Homo sapiens: one gene and its partners. Changing the gene in region 1 together with any one later gene gives a genetic interaction. Each region holds a gene or a part of one and is shown in the gene's direction. Other genes may lie near its edges.

Region 1 (3,663 bases):
ATTTTTGGTTAAACTTAAAAAATTTTTTTATTTACTTATTTTAATTGGCAAATAAAAATTGTATATATGGTGTACAACACGATGTTTTGAAATATGTGTACCTTGTGGAGCTATTGACATATGCATTACATCTTTGTGGGGGAACACTTGAAATCTATTCTTAGTGATTTTCAAGTATGCAATGCCTTGGTTTTGTGTGTGTGTGTGTGTGTGGTTTTTTTTTTTTTTTTTTTTTTTTTTTTTGAGACAGAGTCTCACCCTGTCGCCCAGGCTGGAGTGCAGTGGCGCAATCTCAGCTCACTGTAACCTCTGCCTCCTGGGTTCAAGCGATTCTCCTGGCTCAGCCTCCCAAGCAGCTAGGACTACAGGCGTGTGCCACCATGCCAGGCTAATTTTGTATTTTTAGTAGAGACGGGGTTTCACCATGTTGATCAGGCTGGTCTTGAACTCCTGACCTCAGGTGATCCACCTGAGCCAGGCATCAGCCACCGAGCCAGGCATAAGCCACCACGCCGGGCCAATGTAACAACATAATAACATAATAATAACAATTGTGGCTGGGCATGGTGGCTCATGCCTGTAATCCCAGCACTTTGGGAGGCTGAGGCTGTCAGATCACAAGGTCAGGAGATCAAGACCATCCTGGCCAACATGATGAAACCCCATCTCTACTAAAAATACAAAAATTAGCCGGGTGTGATGGTGCGCGCCTGTCGTCCCAGCTACTCGGGAGGCTAAGGCAGGAGAATCGTTTGAACCTGGGAGGCGGAGGTTGCAGTGAGCTGAGATCATGCCACTGCACTGCAGCCTGGGCAACAGAGCAAGACTCCATCTCAAAAAAAAAAAAATTGTACTGTGTTATACAATAGATCTCTTGAACTTATTCCTCCCTTCTAACTGACATTTTGTATCCTTTGACCAACTTCTTCCCCTTCCCCCTCCCCCGCATATAAACATGTTTATGCTTGGCTAATTAAGAATTATTAGTTATCAGAGTATTGTATTGTCATGGCTTTTGAATATATGCTCTCTATTTTGTATGTTCTCTAAACAGTTCAGGGACCAGCTAGAGATGAACAACCAGCTAAGTAACACAAACCATTGGCACTCAGTCAAGGAATGACTTGCCAAGGCCAAGGAGTTAGAGAACTAAGCTAAGGACAGCTAGGCTTCTATGTAATAATGTTCATGCTCCTTAAACACAAAGTCACCAAGAGTCATTAACTATCTGGCCAGTACTCATTGTATTAAATGCCGTATGTGAAATGCCCCTAAATATTAAGGTTTAACTCTCAATTTATGAAACTGCTTTTTAAAATAAGCATATTCATTCACAAACCTTTTTATTTTGTTATTTTTATTTTTTTTAACCTTTTTCTTTGTGTCAGACATTATTATAGGTACTGTGGATCCAAGGCCAGGTGCAGTGGCTCATGCCTGTAATGCCAGCACTTTGGGAGGCCGAGGCGGGAGGATCACCTGAGGTCAGGAGTTCAAGACCAGCCTGACCAACATGGAGAAACCTCGTCTCTACTAAAAATACAAAAATTTGCTGGGCGTGGTTGTGGGTGCCTGTGGGTGCTGGTAATCCCAGCTACTTGGGAGGCCGAGGCAGGAGAATCACTTGAACCTGGGAGGCGGAGGTTGCAGTGAGCCAAGATTGTGCTGTTGCACTCCAGCCTGGGTGACAAGAGCAAAACTCCATTTCAAAAACAAACAAAAAACAGAAACAAAATTAGCTAGGTTTGGAGGCACATGCCTGTAATCCCAGCTACTCAGAAGGCTGAGGCAGGAGAATCGCTTGAACTCGGGAAGTGGAGGTTGCTGTGAGCTGAGATCGTGCCATTGCACTCCAGCCTGGGCAATAGGAGCGAAACTCTGTCTTAAAATAAATAAATAAATAAATAAATAAATAAAGTACTGTGGTACTATGGATCCAAAATATTTTGATAGTTTGAGCTCAAAGTCTAGCAGGGAGATAAATAGATTAATTATTAAACCACATAAGAAATATTGATAGATATGAACAAGTGTGAGAGCAAGGCAGATATAGCAAGTAAGGCTAAAGAAGTGATCTTGCTATCCAGGAATTGGTTGTTTTTTTTTTTTTGGTTTTGGTTTTTTTTTTGAGACTGAGTCTCGCTCTGTCGCCCAGGGTGGAGTGCAGTGGTGTGATCTTGGCTCACTGCAACCTCTGCCTCCTGGGTTCAAGTGATTCTCCTACCTCAGCCACCCGGGTAGCTGGCATTACAGGGGTGTGCCAGTATGCCTGGCTAATTTTTGTATTTTTACTAGAGGTGGGGTTTCACCATGTCGGCCAGGCTTGTCTCAACCTCCTGACCTCAAGTGACCCACCCACCTTGGCCTCCCATAGTGCTGGGATTACAGGCATGAGCTACCACGCCGGCCCTTAGGAATTGAGTTTTGAAGGATGAGTTTAACAGGCTCTGAGGGAGGCTCTATTCAGAGAACAGCATGAGCAAAGGCATGTGGTCAAAAGATGGTTTGCTGTAGCTGGACATAATGTAATGTTCAGTGTGGCAGAATTACAGTGGATTGAAAGGAATTTGTGGGAGGTTAGGTCCAGAGAGTTGGCCACGTTGTGAAGTGCGTTGTTTGCCCACAGTTTGGATCTTATACTGTAAGCAGCGGGAAATTGTTAAAGACTTTTAGGCAGGAGAATGATGAAACCATGTTATTTTATTTATTTTTCAGTAAATTAGTGTTGGTGTTATTGAATGATATGTAAGAGATTGGTGCGAGGGAGATCAGTTCAGGAGCTCTTGTTACAGTCCTAGTGAGAAACGAAGAGGATATAGACTATAGCAATGGATTGGAATGAATTTTCCTAGCTGTTAATGATAGGATTGGGTGATGCCATCATATGGGGGGGGTGGTGAAAGAAAAGAAATCAAGGATGACTTAGGTTATAGTTTGGTAGTTGGGTGGTAATAATCATTAACCAGAACTTTTGTATACAAATTATTATTCATCATGCCATTCAAAGTTATATATCTATTTTATTGTTGCTGTTACCTAGACATTTATGAAACTTTTTGGTATACCATCAGATCAAGTTTAGAAACTCATTATATTACAGTCATATAATGTATGACTATAATAAGATAAATTATAGTCACATCTTGTTTTGGACTAAAAATGGTATTCAGTTTGATCACATAGACTTGGCTTTGAATAACTTTTTTTTTCCAGAAATCAAATTTATTTTCAGTGGATGAGTATTTTTGTCACCACTGAGGGTTTTAAAAAGAATGTGATGCAAATTCTAAAGACCTCGGGGAGACCAGTGATAATATGTTACATATATATGTGGTGTATTGTAGTTTAGACAATGCTTTCCTGTATGTTTTCTTGTGCAGTCCCCTCAGCAACCAATAAGGTAGGTATTATCAATCCCATTTTATAACTGAAAACGCTGAAGCTCAATGACTCACTCAAGTTATACAACTTATTCTAAGACTTCAGTCTTGATTTTTTTTTTTTTTTTTGAGATGGAGTCCCGCTCTGTCACCAGGCTGGAGTGCAGTGGCCCAATCCCAGCTCACTGCAACCTCTGCCTCGCGGGTTCAAGCGATTCTCCTGCCTCAGCCTCCCGAGTAGCTGGGATCACAGGCGTGCGCCACTACGCCCAGCTAATTTTTG
Region 2 (3,500 bases), on another chromosome or scaffold:
GAAGTAGGAGAAATCAAAGTCAAAGTAGAGTAAATCATGGAGGGATCCAGGAAAGCTTGGTGATTAACAAGACACCTGAGGGATGGGGGAAAGGGGTTCTCACCACAGTCATAATCTTAGGTTTAATGCAGAAGATTCATTCTGCCCTCATTCCCCCTAACGGAAAGAAAGTTTTTGCTGTTTGGTTCTTATTTATGAAGTTCACGGACTTTACAGCTGATAGGACCAGGGCAGCAGGAGTTGACACAAAGCAGGAAACTAAAGCAAATTACTTGTAAAAACATAAAAGTCCATCACAACCTTTAACTTTTCCACTGTATCTGTTACTGCCAGAGGACACTGATCAGAAATATACTGAATTGTTAGGGTGATAGGGTGTGATCTAAGGTTGTCATACCGGCCAGGTTGGCCTTCATAAACAAAGACAACAGAAGAACCTTTTCAGATTTGTAAACTCTCAGAAAACTAACCACCCGAGTATGTTTTAACCATTGTCCTGAGTGATTTACGTTTTCAATTCATTTTATCCTTACCGCATCACCGTAGAGAAGGTTCCATTATTGTCCACATTTTACAGAATAGGGAAGTGTCACAGAGTGCTTTATCCTGCCCAAAGTCACACAACTAAGTGCAGAGCCAGCATTCAAACCCAGGCATTCTGGAATCTGTATAGTGCTCAACAGCTCCATCTGTTCTTTAACACCTAGCTCAAATATTTGTAACTCTGCAAACCTTTCCCTGACTATAGTCCACCCCCTCCAGAGTTAAAGTGCTCTGCTCTTTTGTCCTGTTTCCTAACATTCTAGACTTGGAGTTTTATGAACAGATTGTTTTATTATCTTCCACTTAAACTATTATTTGGGTCAAAATTTGTAGAAGGAAGTACAGTTCACCCTTGAACAACAACAGGGGTTAGAGACACCGACTTCGCCCCACCCACCCCACCCCACACAGTCAAAAATCTGCATAGAACTTTTAACTGCATGGAAAATTTAACTAGTAGCCTACTGTTGACCAGAAGCCTTAGTGATAACGTAGTCAATTAACACATATTTGTGTTGTATGTGTTATATCCTGTATTCTTACAATAAATCATAAGAGAGGAAACATTCATGAAGTGAGAGTGGATCATCATAAAGGTCATCTTCATTATCTTCACATTGAGTAGGCTGAGGAAGAGGAGGGGTTGGTCTTATTGACTCAGGTGGAAGAAAACCCATGTGTAAATGGACCTGCACAGTTCAAACCTGTATTGTTCAAGGGCCAACTGTACTATTCTGTGCTGGGTTAGGAGACCTAGTTTATAGACACAAAAGTAGCTGAGAAGTTACTTTTTAAAAGAAAAACACTTATGCAACAAACATTTCAAAGCACCTACAAAGTGATCTTAGTATGTATTTGCTAGTAAGAAAGCTGACATATAATTATCTCATTCTTAGAGCCCATCAGTTGATACCTATTATCAACTAATGAGTTTCTTAAACATTCCAAGAGAATAATTGGCTGAGTGTGTGCTAGTTAAATAATATAAAGCATGGGAAATAAGTCTCAGGTTAGGTCACCATTTTGAGAAAATTTCTACACATAATGTTTACATTTAGGAGAGGAAAAATGTATTTCCATTTTTAATGTTAATGTCCATCATAGTTTGCCATTTCAATTCAGTAAGTATGTACCTCTGGTAAGGGATGGAAATAAGAAAAATGACTACACAGTGCTGCCCTCAGGGGGCTCGCCTGAATCTAATGGGTGTGAAGATAGATACTTGCACAATTTACAATAAAAGACCAATTTGTAAGTATTGCTGGAGAAAGATGACTAATTCAGCCCCAAGGACAGAAGGCTGTATCAGCTGTTAAGAATGAAATTACAAAAGTTGAAAGATTTTATTTTCTGTAACCATAGCTTGACATACAGTAACCAAATGCCATATTTCTTTAAGATTGTTTGTTTGGGAAATTTTGCACTCTACAATTCGTAAGATGAACAAACATGTCCTGAAGATCCAGAAAGAGCTGGAAGAAGCTAAAGAGAAACTTGCTAGGCAACACAAACGGGTAAGTTTTGTGTAAACTTGTAAGTAGTTAAAGAAAATATACCAGAAACTCTGGAGAGGATTCAGAGTTCATTATCTTGATGATATTTCATTTTTTCTGAGCCCAAATTAATGCAGAGCAGAAATTTTTCTGAGCCCAATTTAATGCAGAAGCAGAAGAGGAGGAAGGAGCAGGTAGTGTGTTGTGTGCTGTTACACTGCATGATGAACCAGTTCAGGAAGCCACAAACTTCACTTCCCATAGTTCACTATCTCTGGGTCGGCCTCACGTTTGCACAAGGGAAGTAGCAGAAGGGAAGAGGACACTTGTATTTCTGTAGGAGTCTCTGGGGGAAGAGGGAGAGGACTATAGATACTTAACACTTTCCCCGTACTGTGAGGAGGAATGGGGCAGTCATTCCCAAGTTAACGGAATACTTCTCATAGTATTAATTTAGTATTTTAGCCATTTTGGAGGGAAGCAGTGAGTGACTTAACATGATACTACTATTCATTATGAAAGTATTTTCCAGTGTTATGCATATTTACCATAGTAGAAGGTGAAAAAAAGTTGAGTTTAGTGCCCTATAGGAACCTTTCGCAAGTTTGAGTACCAGTCTCCATGTAGACATACCTGTATACATATATGGATATAAACACTCAGACCTGAAATACTGTAAGGTAAATGGTGTCATCTCATTTTGTAGATGTTATAAAGTGAGACATAGAGAAGTTAAGTAACATAGCTAGTAGGTTGCATAGCTGGTAAATGACCAGAGCTAGGTTCTGACACAGGTCTGTCAGACTCCAGAGACTTTTCTCTCATGCCACACTGTTTCTAGAAGTGTGCTGTCCAACACAGTAGCCACTAGCTGCACGTGACTATTTTAGTTAAATACAATTTAACATTCAGTTCTTTGGTCACACAACCATATTTCAGGTGCTCAGTAGTAACGTGTGGTTGCGGTCGTAACAGGCTGCACATATTTATATAACATTGGCCCCATTGAAGAAAGGTCTATCTATTAGGTAGTAGTGCTCTAGAACCTTACCTTTGAGTGGTGTTAGGAAAGGACAGTCGTGTACCCACGTGTCTAGAACATAGAGCAGACCTCATAAATGGGCTGTGTTTATAGAGAGAAAAGCAAGATTCTGTGATATCCGAGAGCAGGGTTCTGATAATTTTGCTTAAAGTGGAGAGATCAGTAGATGGGGCCTTAGCAGTTAAGTATTAACCTCGAAGAATTACCAGGCTTTCTAGATTCAGTGATGCCACCTTCTTGCTGAAAGTACCTTGGTATGTAACACCTTAGAGCCACGTTCTGGCTCTGCCACTTTCTGACTGGGTGATGCTGGGAAAGTCATCTAACCTCTCAGCCTTTTTTCTCTGTAAAATGGAAATAAACCATGCCTTGTTTTTCTTTTCCTTTAAAAAGAAAAAATTAAATTCTATAAACTCTTCAGA
Region 3 (3,500 bases), on another chromosome or scaffold:
AAAAAAATAAAATAAAACAAATGTGTAATATCTCTTACGGAGAAAAAGCAGCATTCTTAGAGACCTGTTCACTGTTGAAGATGTTTGTTTCTCTGTTTCACTTTATTTATATGAATCCTTTTAACTGTTATACCTCCTTGCTCACATGATCTAGTTTATTTGGCTTATTTAGGAGCATCTGTATTTCCATAGAAAGATATGTCAATACTAGTAAGGGATTGTGGACATTCCTATGTGCCTAAAGGAGTTCCAAGGAGATCTGTGGATGTTTGTTTAGTAGTAGTTTTTATAATTTGGCATCCACATTTGTTTAGAGATTTTTTAGGTGCTAATGATACCTTGAAGTGATTGTCTCTCTGTAGGATATGACAGACATATGTGGAAGCATCTTCAAGAACTGATTAGAAAATGAAACTCTCGGCCGGGCACGGTGGCTCACGCCTGTAATCCCCGCACTTTGGGAGGCCGAGGCGAGCAGATCACGAGGTCAGGAGATTGAGACCATCCTGGCTAACATGGTGAAACCCCGTCTCTACTAAAAATACAAAAAATTAGCCGGGCATCCTGGCGGGTGCCTGTAGTCCCAGCTACTTGGGAGGCTGAGGCAGGAGAATGGCGTGAACCCGGGAGGCGGAGCTTGCAGTGACCGGAGATGGCACCACTGTACTCCAGCCTGGGCGACAGAGCGAGACTCCGCCTCAAAAAATAAATAAATAAATAAATAAAAAGAAAATGAAACTCTCCTCTAGTAGTATTCTGAGCGGAGTTCAGCTATACCATGTTGCTGTTAAGAAAAGATGATATATAATTAAAATAAAGCAGGCCAGGCGCAGTGGCTCACTCCTGCAATCCCAGCACTTTTGGAGGCTGAGGCAGGTGGATCACCTGAGGTCAGGAGTTCAGGACCAGCCTGGCCAACATGGTGAAACCCCGTCTCTACTAAAATTACAAAAATTAGCCGGGCGTGGCCAGGCGCGGTGGCTCACGCCTGTAATCCCAGCACTTTGGGAGGCCGAGATGGGTGGATCACCTGAGGTTGGGAGTTCGAGACCAGCCTGACCAACATGGAGGAACCCCATCGCTGCTAAAAACACAAAATTAGCCAGGCATGGTGGCACATGCCTGTAATCCCAGCTACTTGGGAAGGCTGAGGCAGGCAAATCACTTTAACCTGGGAGGCGGAGGTTGCAGTGAGCCAAGATCACGCCATTGTACTCCAGCCTGGGCAACAAGAGTGAAACCATCTCAAAAAAAAAAAAAAAAAAACCCGGGCATGGTGGCGCACGTCTGTAATCCCAGCTACTCGGGAGGCTGAGGCTTGAGAATCGTTTGCACCTGGGAGACGGAGGTTGCAGTGAGCCGAGATCGCACCATTGCCCTCCATCCTGGGCAGTGAAGTAAGACTCTGTCTCCAGGAAAAAAAAAGAAAAGAAACAAGAAAAACATACTCTTGGCCAGGCACAGTGGCTCACACCTGTAATCCCAGGACTTTGGGAGGCCAAGGCAGGAGGAGCCCAGGAGTTTGAGACCAGCCTGAGCAACATAACAAGACCCTGTCTCTACCAAAATAAAAGTTTAAAAATTAGTCATGCATGATGATGCATGCCTATAGTCCTAGCTACTTGGGAGGCTAAGGCAGGAGGATTACTTGAACCCAGGAATTTGAGGCTTTAGTGAGCCGTGATCATGCCACTATACTCCAGCCTGGGCAACAGAGTTGCTGTCTCTTTTTAAAACAAAACAAAATTTTGCAGTGCTGTGCTATAACTGCACTATCCAGCGTGGTAGCTACTAGCCACATGCAGCTATTATACTCTTGAAATGTGGCTAGTGAGACTGAAGAACTGAATTGTTGGTTGTATGTAATCTTAATATTATATATTAAAGTAGGCGTACATGGACAGTAGCTACCATGTTCAACTGTGCAGTTCTAAGCCTTTTTCTTTAATGTGTAGATGAATGTGCTATTTTTTATAAAAATGGTATCATGCCCCTTAAGGTAGCTTTGTAGCAAACCTTTAATTTAGAAAGTATGTGATCCTTGCTTATGTTGTTAGATGCTCTTCTACACTGATCTACAGACAATGCTTTGTGAACATCTTTGCTAACTAAATCTCTGGGCATGTCCTTAAAGATAAATTGCAAGAACAGAACTGCTGCGACAGGGGAAATATGGATGGATAGATGGATGGATGATTAAATGGATGGATGATTAGATGGATGAATGATTGGATGGATGGATGGATGGATGATTGGATGGATGGATAGATGGATGATTGGATGGTTGGATGGATAGATGGATGATTGGATGGATGGATGGATGATTGGATGGATGGATGGATGGATGATTGGATGGATGGATGGATGGATGATTGGATGGATGGATGGATGGATGGATGATTAGATGGATGATTAGATGGATGATTGGATGGATAGATAGATGGGTGGGTGGGTGGATGGATGGATGATTGGATGATTGGATGGATGGATGGATGGATGGATGGATGGATGGATGGATATATAGATATATAGTGAATGCCTGTATATCCTTCACTTAGTTACCATTTGTTGGTTTTCCTTCATGTATGTGTGTATATTTTGCTGAAATCATTTGAGCGTTCTTTGCAGACATCGTAACACTTTACCCCCAAGTATTTTAGCATGAACCACCTAAGAACAAGGATAGTATATAAATAACCAAAATAAAATTATTCACACTCAAGAAATTTACCATTGATAGACTACATATTGAGATTTGTTCTTGTTATTTCCATAATGCCCTGCGGGACTTCTTTTTAACCCTCATCCAGGACCCAGTCAGGGATCGTACGTTATATTCACTCCTCATGTCTTATGAGTTTTCAGTTTCCTTTAATCTAGAATCCCCTAGACTTTTATTTTCTTCTGGTCTTTTGATGTTTTTGGTATGTATAGTTTTATCGTATTATGAAATAGATGCTATTTAAACATTTTGCCTTTTACTGAGTCAAATAACTTTTTTGTTTTTAAGGTGGGTCATGATAACTGGGTACGTGGAGTTCTGTTCCATTCTGGGGGGAAGTTTATTTTGAGTTGTGCTGATGACAAGACCCTACGCGTATGGGATTACAAGAACAAGCGATGCATGAAGACCCTCAATGCGCATGAACACTTTGTTACCTCCTTGGGTATGTACGCCTCGCGAGGTCTCTGAACATTAGATTTTGGAGTGCCAGACAAACTGTGTTTTACATAATCGTGTGGACTTTGCCAGGTAAGAAATGACTGTGCTTTCAGGGCAGAATAGAGAAGACATGAAAATCTTGTGGATTCCTACCATTTGTTTTAAATTCTCCTTTCCCGTTAACTCTTTCCATCGTTAGCCTTATAATAAAAACATTACTTTCTCCACTGCACAACATTGGTTTTGGAAACCACAATTTGTGAAGAGGTTACTTACCACTCTGATGGGTAATTTTTCTCCCCTATTAGTTTGTTTCTCAAACAAAATCTTCCTCAAC

The links.
Region 2: changes in SDHC (region 1) and NCBP1 together harm fitness less than expected from each alone (positive genetic interaction), as found in Homo sapiens cells (one large-scale study listed by BioGRID).
Region 3: changes in SDHC (region 1) and PAFAH1B1 together harm fitness more than expected from each alone (negative genetic interaction), as found in Homo sapiens cells (one large-scale study listed by BioGRID).

The regions. Positions count from the first base shown.
Region 1 is NC_000001.11:161,317,337-161,320,999, forward strand, and holds part of SDHC (succinate dehydrogenase cytochrome b560 subunit, mitochondrial isoform 1 precursor), read left to right. Parts: intron 1-3,663. UniProt on the Homo sapiens protein: Membrane-anchoring subunit of succinate dehydrogenase (SDH) that is involved in complex II of the mitochondrial electron transport chain and is responsible for transferring electrons from succinate to ubiquinone (coenzyme Q).
Region 2 is NC_000009.12:97,664,821-97,668,320, forward strand, and holds part of NCBP1 (nuclear cap-binding protein subunit 1), read left to right. Parts: intron 1-1,942; coding exon 1,943-2,057; intron 2,058-3,500. UniProt on the Homo sapiens protein: Component of the cap-binding complex (CBC), which binds cotranscriptionally to the 5'-cap of pre-mRNAs and is involved in various processes such as pre-mRNA splicing, translation regulation, nonsense-mediated mRNA decay, RNA-mediated gene silencing (RNAi) by microRNAs (miRNAs) and mRNA export.
Region 3 is NC_000017.11:2,677,154-2,680,653, forward strand, and holds part of PAFAH1B1 (platelet-activating factor acetylhydrolase IB subunit beta), read left to right. Parts: intron 1-3,010; coding exon 3,011-3,167; intron 3,168-3,500. UniProt on the Homo sapiens protein: Regulatory subunit (beta subunit) of the cytosolic type I platelet-activating factor (PAF) acetylhydrolase (PAF-AH (I)), an enzyme that catalyzes the hydrolyze of the acetyl group at the sn-2 position of PAF and its analogs and participates in PAF inactivation.